Linked DNA regions of Homo sapiens. The protein of the gene in region 1 interacts with the protein of each later gene in a biochemical or structural test. Each region holds a gene or a part of one and is shown in the gene's direction. Other genes may lie near its edges.

Region 1 (3,823 bases):
TGTCACTCCTCAGGGATTTGTAGCTCTCTGAAGCTCTTTTCCGACCCGTTGTCTCGGTTCCACTCTTGGGATCCAGAGGAGAGGTGATTATTTCGTAGCATAGTCAGTGGTGTGATTTCACGGGGTGAGAAGGACTCCCTTGCTCCTAAGCACTCCTCCAGTGACCCCTGTTGCCATGTGGTAGCCGTAAGCACTGGTTGGCACCTGGTGTGGGCGAGACCCTTACCTCATGCAGAAATGAGTAAGACCGGTGAGCTCACCATGTGGGGGTGAGGCTGAGAGAAAACAAGTACACAGGTGATTCAGTCAAAATCAGAATTCTCTAAGTACACACGAAAAGGGCAAAAGGGGCGCTTTGTACAGGACAGAACAGGTAGACACTGAATCCGGTTGGGCCCTGGGAAGGCTCCCTGCAGTGGCCTTTGAAGGGGGGGTTGGATTTCAGCAGGATAGAGGGCATGGGCATGTGTGGGCACGTTCTGAACAGAGGGGTCAGCGCAAGCCGAGGGTCTTGGCCACACTAGTTGCATGTGCCGGTGTGTTTAAGGGACACGCAGCAGCAGGCCGAGTCTGGAGCGCCTCACTGCCAGGCTTTTTAAAAATTTTTAATTTTAATTTAATTTTATTTTATTTTTACTTTAAGTTCTGGCATACATGTGCAGAATGTGGTTTGTTACATAGGTATACATGTGCCATGGTGGTTTGCTGCACCTATCAACCCATCATCTAGGTTTTAAGCCCCGCATGCATCAGGTATTAGTCCTAATGCTCTCCCTCCCCTTGCCCCCATCCTTCTCCCCGCAACTGCCCACAGGCCCTGGTATGTGGTGTTCCCTTCCCTGTGTCCATATGTTCTCATTGTTCAACTCCCACTTATGAGTGAGAACATACCGCCTGGCTTTAAGGGACAGCCATGGGGATGCACTGCAGTTTCTGAGCAGGGAAGGCCCTGTGGAGGCCCTTAGTTAAAAGGAAAGAATGGCTGTGAAAATCGATGCATTGCGCTCCCTTGTCCCTCACCCTCAGTGTGAAGGGTTTTTATTCCGAGTTCTACTTGAAGTAGGCCTCGATGGGAAGACAAGTAGCATGAGGGGTTCAAGTACTGAGGGGAGCAAGGGACACTCGGTGGCTGTGCCAAGGTGTAGAAGAGGACACTGGGGGCCCCAAGGCCTGACTTCATGTACACTGCTCAGGCTGGCCCCCAAGTCACACGGTGACCGCTAGGAAGGGACCAGCCTGTTCTCAGTCTGATCCTCCTGCCATGTCATTATCCAAAGCTCCTCCTGGCAGGGCCTGTTTGGGGTCTCTGTGCCAGTGCTTTCCCTGCCAGGCTGGGCTGGGGCTTCCACCTACTGCTCTGGGACTGCTGCTGCCCTGGCCCTGGGGGAGGAGGGTGTGCCGCTGAGTCACTGCCTGGGCATCTGGGCCTGGAACCTCGGGTGAGTCACTTAGGGCTGAGGTAGAGGGGCTGGGGGAGGGGAAGAAGCTACTCGACAGCTGGAGCAGGGAGGGGAGCTGGGGCCACAGGAAGGGCGGTGCCCTGATGCCCAGACGGGCCGGGATAGACAAAGGGCCAAGGAGGAAGGGGCCCTGGGAGGGGGCAGCCCTCCCTTGGGCTGGGCTCTGAATGGCCACAGTGTTTGCCTTTCTCCGGGTCTGGGGAGGACATGTGTGTGGGGGGCAGTGAGAGAGGGCTGTGGCTGAGGGCTGTGCTTCAGGCCTGGATTCTGGCTTGGGAAGCTGTCCAGCTGGTGTTTTCAGCCTTGGGTAGGGATGTACCCCTACCCACCCACCCAGCCCTCAAGCTGGAGAAGAGGAGGCCAAAGTTTTCCTGTTCAGCCTTTAACTACTCGGGACTTCCTTATGCTCCCCACAGACTGTGGCCCAGCCCAACTGCGGCTGTGTGTAGAGCAACCCCATTTCTCACTGCTTCCCCATCCTTCCAGACACCTTCCTACACAGAGGGACCTTCCCAGGTATTTCTAAGCACACTTAGTTACCTCATTACCTCATTAAGAGGTATTCTGGTGCTGGCCATTAAAAGTCACTCCACTTCATCCATGCCCTGAAGTCAGTCCTGTCCTTCTCCTCCTGATGTCCCCCAGCTGCCTCCTCTGGCCCCCAGCTTCCTAAGGGTGGCCCCAGGTTGCTTCTCTCTCACACACACGGGCGCATGTATGTACACGAGCACTGGACCATGAAGTCTCAGCGTGTGCTCACAGCCTCTCACACAGGAGTGGGCTGTGACTCACAGGCATGTCATGAGAATGAGGCCTGGCACCAGTCTCCAGGCCCCAGAGCAGGGGTTGCCTCCCCTCACCCCGGTCCAGGATGCCCAGTCCCCACGACACCTCCCACTTCCCACTGTGGCCTGGGTGGGCTCAGGGGCTGCCCTTGACCTGGCCTAGAGCCCTCCCCCAGCTGGTGGTGGAGCTGGCACTCTCTGGGAGGGAGGGGGCTGGGAGGGAATGAGTGGGAATGGCAAGAGGCCAGGGTTTGGTGGGATCAGGTTGAGGCAGGTTTGGTTTCCTTAAAATGCCAAGTTGGGGGCCAGTGGGGCCCACATATAAATCCTCACCCTGGGAGCCTGGCTGCCTTGCTCTCCTTCCTGGGTCTGTCTCTGCCACCTGGTCTGGTGAGTACCTCTGTCCTGCTGAGGGCAGGGTGGGGAGGATCCCCGTGGGTCTCTGTCTTTGTCTCCACAGTTCTCTCATTCCAGCTTCCCTGGTGGGATCAACCTGGGCCTCTCTGGGCCTTCCCCCTTGGAAGAACTCTCTGTGAAGTGCTGAAGTGTTGACTGAAGGGTTTTTTTTTTTTTTTTTTTTTTTTGAGATGGAGTCTCGCTCTGTCGCCCAGGCTGGAGTACAGTGGTGTGATCTCAGCTCACTGCAAACTCCCCCTCCCAGGTTCACGCCATTCTCCTGCCTCAGCCTCCCGAGTAGCTGGGACTGCAGGCGCCCACCACCATGCCCGGCTAATTTTTTTGTATTTTTAGTAGAGATGGGGTTTCACCATGTTAGCCAGGATGGTCTCGATCTCCTGATCTCGTGATCCACCCATCTCGGCCTCCCAAAGTGCTGGGATTACAGGAGTAAGCCACCGCGCCCGGCCGACTGAAGGGTTTTTCTCCAGGTTCCTCTGTGAGGTCTCAGTGCAGGGGTTGCTCTGAGGCCCTCCCCTGGATATCTCAGTCTAGGGGCCCTTCTTTGGGGGTCTAGGCCTAGGAGCAGGAGGTGTGCATGTGGGCGTTGCTGCAAAAAGAATCCTGAGATTTTTTTTTTTTTTTGCAAAGTCCTGGATTCTAGCAGGACTAAGGTGCAAGAGGCAGGGGTCTCAAGACTCTGCCTGGGTCATGGCCCCAAGCAGCAAAGCTCTGCCCCCTGCCTCGGTGAAGGCAGGGCTGGCATGATGGGCCCAGGGCATGCCCTGCCTCTGGCATAGCTCCTCTGGCCTCACCCTGAAACCTGCCTAACCTTTCCAGGCTGGTCTGAGTATTCTCAGAGGCCTTGCCGCTGAGGTCTGTCCCATCCTGATCCCAAGGCAATGAACATTTCATATCTTTAATTCTAATTCCAACAGGATCCTTCCTGGTGGAGAGAATGTTAAGTTGCCCCCACCCTATCCATGCCCCTGTCTGCCTAGAGGCTCAGGGGCCTTCAGGGTGAGGGGAGACACATTCCCCACCCTCTGGGAGCTCCTAGTCTGAGAGAGGAAACACTCCTGCCCAAGGGAGCTTCCAGTTAGATGGCAGAGAGAGATGCCTCTGGCTTCAGGAGTCCCGAGTCTAAGGAGGGAAACGACTCCTTCAGGGAGCTTCCTGCTC
Region 2 (3,600 bases), on another chromosome or scaffold:
CATAGCTCTGGGAATGGAATGCGACCCTTGTGGAGAGCCTATAAACGGACGCATGGGGGCGGGGGGCACCTGTCCATATGGATAAGATAGGGCTATAAACGCCCTCATCTTGCCATGGCTCTTCTAGGCCTCTTTAGGGTTAAGGCATACTCCCTTCTGAGAATTTCTGGTCTAACTGGTTGTCTAGCTTCATGTCCTGTTTCCATGGATTGTCTGTAACCAGCTTTTGTTGCAATTGTTACTGCTGATTAGTATCTTGCTAATCATAGGTTATGGAAAGATTGTGTTTCTGTTTTAAGGCTCTGTTAGAAATTACTGATGCACACACTATATTGTAAATTCTTATCTCTGTATACTGTACTTCTGCATACAAATGTACTGTACTTCTACATATAAATGTTATGTTAAAGAATTAATTCATCCCCATGTGACCATCTCACCTCATAATCAAATGACCCTAAATCCCTCACTAACCTACCCCCGCCCTCACTAAACTTAATAATAAATGATGGTACATCTGGTGCATTGTTGACACCACGGGACCAGAAGGCGGTGACCCCCCGGACCAGCTTTCACTATCTTGTGTGTGTCTATTATTTCTCAACCTGCTGATCCGCCTGGGAACAAAGAGAGAGCCCTGTTGCATTGCGGGCTGCTGGCCAGATCCCGCAATACTCACCTGACTCTCCATTCACTTTGCTGAATCGACAATCCCCCACCCACCTCATACCTCTTCCCATTGATGTCCTACCCCCCTTCAAGGCTGAGGTCATTGTCACCTCCTCCCTCAAATCTTTCTTGATTTCTCCCGGCTAACTCTTACAGCTCAGATCTACACATTCCAGTCTTTTTTTGTTTTTGAGACAGGCTCTCACTCTGTCGCCCAGGCTGCAGTGCAGTGGCACGATCATGGCTCACTACGGCCTCGAACTCCTGGGCTCAGGTGATCCTCCTGCCTTAGCCTCCTGCATATTTGGGACTACAGGCGTGAGCCACCACACCTGACTAATTATTTTTTATTTATTTATTTATTTTAGAGACAAGGTCTTGCCATGTTGTCCGGGCTGGTCTCGAACTCCTGGGCTCAAAGGATCTTCCTGCCTTGGTCTCCCAAAGTGCTGGGATTATAGGTGTCAGCTGCGGCGCCTGGACCTTTCCTGTCTTTTATGAAACCTGAATGGGATAGGCTGGTAGTTTCACCACACCCATTTGACAGATGAGGACATTGAGGGCTCAAGGACGAGGCCACTTTCTAAGGTGTGAGAGACCAGCTAGTCTTGGTCTCCTGCTCTGGGAATCTCACTCCTCTGGCTCAGGGTTTCCAGAAGCCATAAAACCTTAGCTGTAAATCCCAGCCCCCATCACTCTTGGTGTTAGCTGTATTTCAGTGTTCTTAAGAACTCAGCAATGCAGCCTAGCTAACCTACACCACAGGTCAAATAAACAGATGTCAAGGTGCATGTGTGTCCTGCACAATGGACTGTGTGCTCTGTGCACTAAAAGTTAAGTGTCTGGGGTGGGGGCTGGGTGCGGTGGCTCACGCCTGCAATCCCAGCACTTTGAGAGGCCGAGGAGGGTGGATCACCTGAGGTCAGGAGTTCAAGACCGGTATGGGCAATATGGCAACACCCCATCTCTACTAAAAATACAAAACATAGCCGGGTGTAAAGGTGTGCCTGTAGTCCCAGCTGCTCCAGAGGCTGAAGCAGGAGAATTGCTTGAACCCAGGAGGCAGAGGTTGTAGTGAACGGGAGATGGCACCACTGCACTGCCTGGGCAACATAGGGAGGCTACATCTCCAGAAAAAAAAAAAAAAGTTAAGTGTCTGGGTTTGCAGAGTACTAGACGGTGAGGAGTGAGGTGGGGAGGAAGAACCCCAAATTTCTTGCCCTATTTGCCCCCATCAAATTCCTCAACATGGTCAACATTGTTTCTAGAACATGTCCTGGGATTGTGGGAAGGGAGACCACTCATTTGCCCCTCCCTAAAGCTTCTGGGCTTCCAGACCCAGCTACTTTGCGGAACTCAGCAACCCAGGCATCTCTGAGTCTCCGCCCAAGACCGGGATGCCCCCCAGGGGAGGTGTCCGGGAGCCCAGCCTTTCCCAGATAGCACGCTCCGCCAGTCCCAAGGGTGCGCAACCGGCTGCACTCCCCTCCCGCGACCCAGGGCCCGGGAGCAGCCCCCATGACCCACACGCACGTCTGCAGCAGCCCCGCTCACGCCCCGGCGAGCCTCAACCCAGGCGTCCTGCCCCTGCTCTGACCCCGGGTGGCCCCTACCCCTGGCGACCCCTCACGCACACAGCCTCTCCCCCACCCCCACCCGCGCACGCACACATGCAGATAACAGCCCCGACCCCCGGCCAGAGCCGCAGAGTCCCTGGGCCACCCCGGCCGCTCGCTGCGCTGCGCCGCACCGCGCTGTCCTCCCGGAGCCGGACCGGGGCCACCGCGCCCGCTCTGCTCCGACACCGCGCCCCCTGGACAGCCGCCCTCTCCTCCAGGCCCGTGGGGCTGGCCCTGCACCGCCGAGCTTCCCGGGATGAGGGCCCCCGGTGTGGTCACCCGGCGCGCCCCAGGTCGCTGAGGGACCCCGGCCAGGCGCGGAGATGGGGGTGCACGGTGAGTACTCGCGGGCTGGGCGCTCCCGCCCGCCCGGGTCCCTGTTTGAGCGGGGATTTAGCGCCCCGGCTATTGGCCAGGAGGTGGCTGGGTTCAAGGACCGGCGACTTGTCAAGGACCCCGGAAGGGGGAGGGGGGTGGGGCAGCCTCCACGTGCCAGCGGGGACTTGGGGGAGTCCTTGGGGATGGCAAAAACCTGACCTGTGAAGGGGACACAGTTTGGGGGTTGAGGGGAAGAAGGTTTGGGGGTTCTGCTGTGCCAGTGGAGAGGAAGCTGATAAGCTGATAACCTGGGCGCTGGAGCCACCACTTATCTGCCAGAGGGGAAGCCTCTGTCACACCAGGATTGAAGTTTGGCCGGAGAAGTGGATGCTGGTAGCTGGGGGTGGGGTGTGCACACGGCAGCAGGATTGAATGAAGGCCAGGGAGGCAGCACCTGAGTGCTTGCATGGTTGGGGACAGGAAGGACGAGCTGGGGCAGAGACGTGGGGATGAAGGAAGCTGTCCTTCCACAGCCACCCTTCTCCCTCCCCGCCTGACTCTCAGCCTGGCTATCTGTTCTAGAATGTCCTGCCTGGCTGTGGCTTCTCCTGTCCCTGCTGTCGCTCCCTCTGGGCCTCCCAGTCCTGGGCGCCCCACCACGCCTCATCTGTGACAGCCGAGTCCTGGAGAGGTACCTCTTGGAGGCCAAGGAGGCCGAGAATATCACGGTGAGACCCCTTCCCCAGCACATTCCACAGAACTCACGCTCAGGGCTTCAGGGAACTCCTCCCAGATCCAGGAACCTGGCACTTGGTTTGGGGTGGAGTTGGGAAGCTAGACACTGCCCCCCTACATAAGAATAAGTCTGGTGGCCCCAAACCATACCTGGAAACTAGGCAAGGAGCAAAGCCAGCAGATCCTACGGCCTGTGGGCCAGGGCCAGAGCCTTCAGGGACCCTTGACTCCCCGGGCTGTGTGCATTTCAGACGGGCTG
Region 3 (3,823 bases), on another chromosome or scaffold:
ATAGCTTGATTTAACCTCATTGTATACATATATCAAAACATCATGTCATATACTACAAATATGAAGTTACTTGTCAATCAAAAAAAAAAAGAAGAAAAGAGAAGAACAGGCCTAGAACAGAAATGAAGCCTATGGGAGCATAAAGGTGCAACAGTGTAGACCAACTGCGTGAGCTCCAAACAAAGTCTCCAAAAGAATCTTTTGAAATCTTTGGGCAAGTCTCTCAATCTCTCTGAATCACAATTGCCTCATCCACCAGAACAGATAACAGTGCAGGCCCCTACTTCACTTTGGAATGGGCATGACACTTTTCTAGCCTTATTTCCCATACTTGGTCATACCCTCACATCAGGTCTTTATTCCATGTAAAAGATTTGCTGGGAAGGCCTTTGAGGGGCCTCTTCATCTTTCCACAGAGCTTTCCATTAAACAGAGGCAAAATTAAACCATGTCCTTTTTTTCCATGGCACTCTGAACCCTTCTCATCATGTGATCTATTAGAATTACTTATCTATGTATCTGGCCCACACCACTGAGCTCCTGGTGAACCTATACTGCTCCCCTTCATAAAATATAAAGCAGGTGGCTCACACAAAATACACTCTCAACAAATGTGGAATAGAAGGCATGATTCATGATTATTTCATTCTACTAAATGCATGATATTATTTGGACTACGCACTGTGATATACCATTAAAAATAAGTGATTTTTAAAAAAAAATTTCCAGAATTAGGACAGATGCACTGTGACTCACGTTATTATTATTATTATTATTATTATTATTATTATTATTATTATTTTGAGTCGGAGTCTTGCTCTATCACCCATGATGGAGTACAGTGGCATGACCTTGGCTCACTGCAACGTCTGCCTCCCGGGTTCAAGGGAGTCTCCTGCCTCAGCCCACCCGAGTAGCTGGGACTACAGGCGCGCGCCATCACGCCCAGCTAATTTCCTTTGTATTTTTAGTAAAGATGGGGTTTTGCCATCTTGGCCAGGCTGCTCTCGAACTCCTGACCTCAGGTGATCCACCCGCCTCGGCTTCCCAAAGTGCTGGGATTACAGGCATGAGCCACTGCGCCTGGCCTGACCTACATTCTTAAAAGGGCTGTGTTACTGAAACAATCAGGAAAGAATCATATCTCCAGGTGAAGGAAAATGAACAATGCTTTTTCTCTTCCTCAAGTCAAGAAAAATCCAGTTCTTTAGTTGACAGTACATCCAAGTTAGTCAAATTAAGTAGCTTCCTGTCTCCGCTTCATTTTATCTACTTGTCATGATTAAATATCCTACTAGGTTGTAAGTGGGCCCTCAACGCTGACCTTTTTATCTTGGGATTTGAGAGGCACAGTCTAGAGCACTACTCTTCACCTAAATGCCAGTATGCCACCAGTAGAAATTATCCTTTAGGCTAAATATTGTTCTTCCCAGAAACCCTCTTTTCAAGGATCAGTTTAAACCTAAATTCATCAGAGAGGAAAACAGCAGATTTCAGAGTCAGATGAAGAATTCATATCCACCTGGCTTTGAACATTATCGGCTGTGAGATGGTGTAGGTAAAATTTTAAGTGCATAATTTGGCAATAATAAATCATCAATAAATATTAATGTTGATGAGGCCCCTGGGCCACATAAAGAAATAGGGAGTGAGGGGATTTGAAATTCTGGCCACTTCACAGAAATGGGTGGGAAGGGGCTCTTGATTGAGATAGAAGCCCATCCTACATGAAGCAATTCCTCATTGAGTTCTCTCGTCCTTTATCCTTGTTGGAAACATCAGGCAAAGTCACTCTTGGTCTTAAAGTACTTTTACATCTAAATACGGAACTCTTCTATTTAATCCCTGTCTGTTGTAGATGTTAAGTATACAAAGAGGTTGTCAGAGTTTGAAACATCTGGACTTCTGTCAGGTACTAGCTCCGGAACTCCAGTCCTGCTCGCCCTCAAAAACGGCTTGCAGCTAGAGGTTTAAGTTCCACTTCCTCTCAGCGAATCCTTACGCACGAGGGAGGCGGGGCGTGTGTCCTCCGCGCGTGGTTTTCGGGTAGCACCTTCTGGGGCGCCGCCTGCCTCCACCCACGGCCGGGCCTTGACGTCATGGGCTGCGGCCCCCTCCCGGCTGAGCCTATAAAGCGGCAGGTGCGCGCCGCCCTACAGACGTTCGCACACCTGGGTGCCAGCGCCCCAGAGGTCCCGGGACAGCCCGAGGCGCCGCGCCCGCCGCCCCGAGCTCCCCAAGCCTTCGAGAGCGGCGCACACTCCCGGTCTCCACTCGCTCTTCCAACACCCGCTCGTTTTGGCGGCAGCTCGTGTCCCAGAGACCGAGTTGCCCCAGAGACCGAGACGCCGCCGCTGCGAAGGACCAATGAGAGCCCCGCTGCTACCGCCGGCGCCGGTGGTGCTGTCGCTCTTGATACTCGGCTCAGGTGAGGATTCACCGGCGCTGAACTGCTGGGCTCTCCTCCCATGGCAGGTTTTGCCTCTTGAGTTTGGCTCTTGCTTCTCTAAAAATCGCCCTTTAGTTCCCCCGACCCTGCGCCGCAGGAGGTGATCACTGTAGCTCCCTCCCTAGGAGGAAAAGAGAAGGGCAGATGTCTCAAACGTCCAGGACAAGGTGTCCCAGAGAATCGCTGTACTTTTTCTTTAGTTCAGCTGAGAAGACGGGAGAGATCATTTGAACCTAACCCTTCGTTTCACAGATTAAAAGATTAAAAAGACCAAGATCTAGAGAGGTGAAGTGATTTCCGCAGATATTGGACCCAGCAGTGTTTGCTGCCTCCTGCCTAATTCTCCATCTCTGTCTAGTGATTTCTTCTTTACCTTCCTAGAGGGACTTAGAGTATCCCGGCGAGAGGTTAAAAGCACCACTCTGATGCTGTTTTATTGAGACCTAAGAAAAAGCAAGATAAAGCAGTGGCTTAACTCTGGGCCCCAAATCTTACTTAGTACTCAGTTTATTGTCTATGTAGTAATAATAATAATGATAATGAAAAATGACAATAATAATCGATATAATTAACCACTGTTTATATTATTTTAAAAGATTATCTTTTAAAAATATCTTTTAAAAATATGAACACATCTTTTAAAAATATGAACACATCTTTTAAAAATATCTTTTAAAAATATGAACACATCTGAAGAAAATCTGATATTTGTATCTAAAACCTACCGAAATAGGCCAGGATGGCATTCTAGCAAAAAAAGAAATGCATTTGGAATGTGAAGTGATGGGAATTTTTAGACATTACCCATCAAGTAATTGTATTAGATTAATTTGCCAATTTGGCGGGATTTTTTTGATGTGGAAATTAATGTGGATTATCTGTGGAAAAGAAAAACTTCAGAAAAGCACTTCTGTAATTGGGACAGCTGAATTTGCTTGCTGGCAAAAATGTAAAGTTTCTTTCATAGAAATGACTCAATCACAAACAATAGCACATGTGCAATAACTGCTTTGATGTCAAAAGATAAACTTTTCTACCTAACACAGCTGACTCGAAAGGCACCCTACTTTACCTTTTCTTTTCTTCCTTTATTCCCTCCCCTGCAGGCCATTATGCTGCTGGATTGGACCTCAATGACACCTACTCTGGGAAGCGTGAACCATTTTCTGGGGACCACAGTGCTGATGGATTTGAGGTTACCTCAAGAAGTGAGATGTCTTCAGGGAGTGAGATTTCCCCTGTGAGTGAAATGCCTTCTAGTAGTGAACCGTCCTCGGGAGCCGACTATGACTACTCAGAAGAGTATGATAACGAACCACAAATACCTGGCTATATTGTCGATGATTCAGTCAGAGGTGAGTAGGGGATAAAGCA

What was found.
Region 2: the proteins of S100A2 (region 1) and EPO form a complex in vitro, tested with the Homo sapiens proteins (one study listed by BioGRID).
Region 3: the proteins of S100A2 (region 1) and AREG interact in far-western blotting, tested with the Homo sapiens proteins (one study listed by IntAct).

What each region holds. Positions count from the first base shown.
Region 1 is NC_000001.11:153,564,318-153,568,140, reverse strand, and holds the start of S100A2 (protein S100-A2), read left to right. Parts: upstream 1-2,296; 5' UTR 2,297-2,635; intron 2,636-3,823. UniProt on the Homo sapiens protein: May function as calcium sensor and modulator, contributing to cellular calcium signaling. May function by interacting with other proteins, such as TPR-containing proteins, and indirectly play a role in many physiological processes.
Region 2 is NC_000007.14:100,718,370-100,721,969, forward strand, and holds the start of EPO (erythropoietin precursor), read left to right. Parts: upstream 1-2,098; 5' UTR 2,099-2,611; coding exon 2,612-2,624; intron 2,625-3,188; coding exon 3,189-3,334; intron 3,335-3,592; coding exon 3,593-3,600. UniProt on the Homo sapiens protein: Hormone involved in the regulation of erythrocyte proliferation and differentiation and the maintenance of a physiological level of circulating erythrocyte mass.
Region 3 is NC_000004.12:74,442,979-74,446,801, forward strand, and holds the start of AREG (amphiregulin preproprotein), read left to right. Parts: upstream 1-2,157; 5' UTR 2,158-2,367; coding exon 2,368-2,428; intron 2,429-3,555; coding exon 3,556-3,804; intron 3,805-3,823.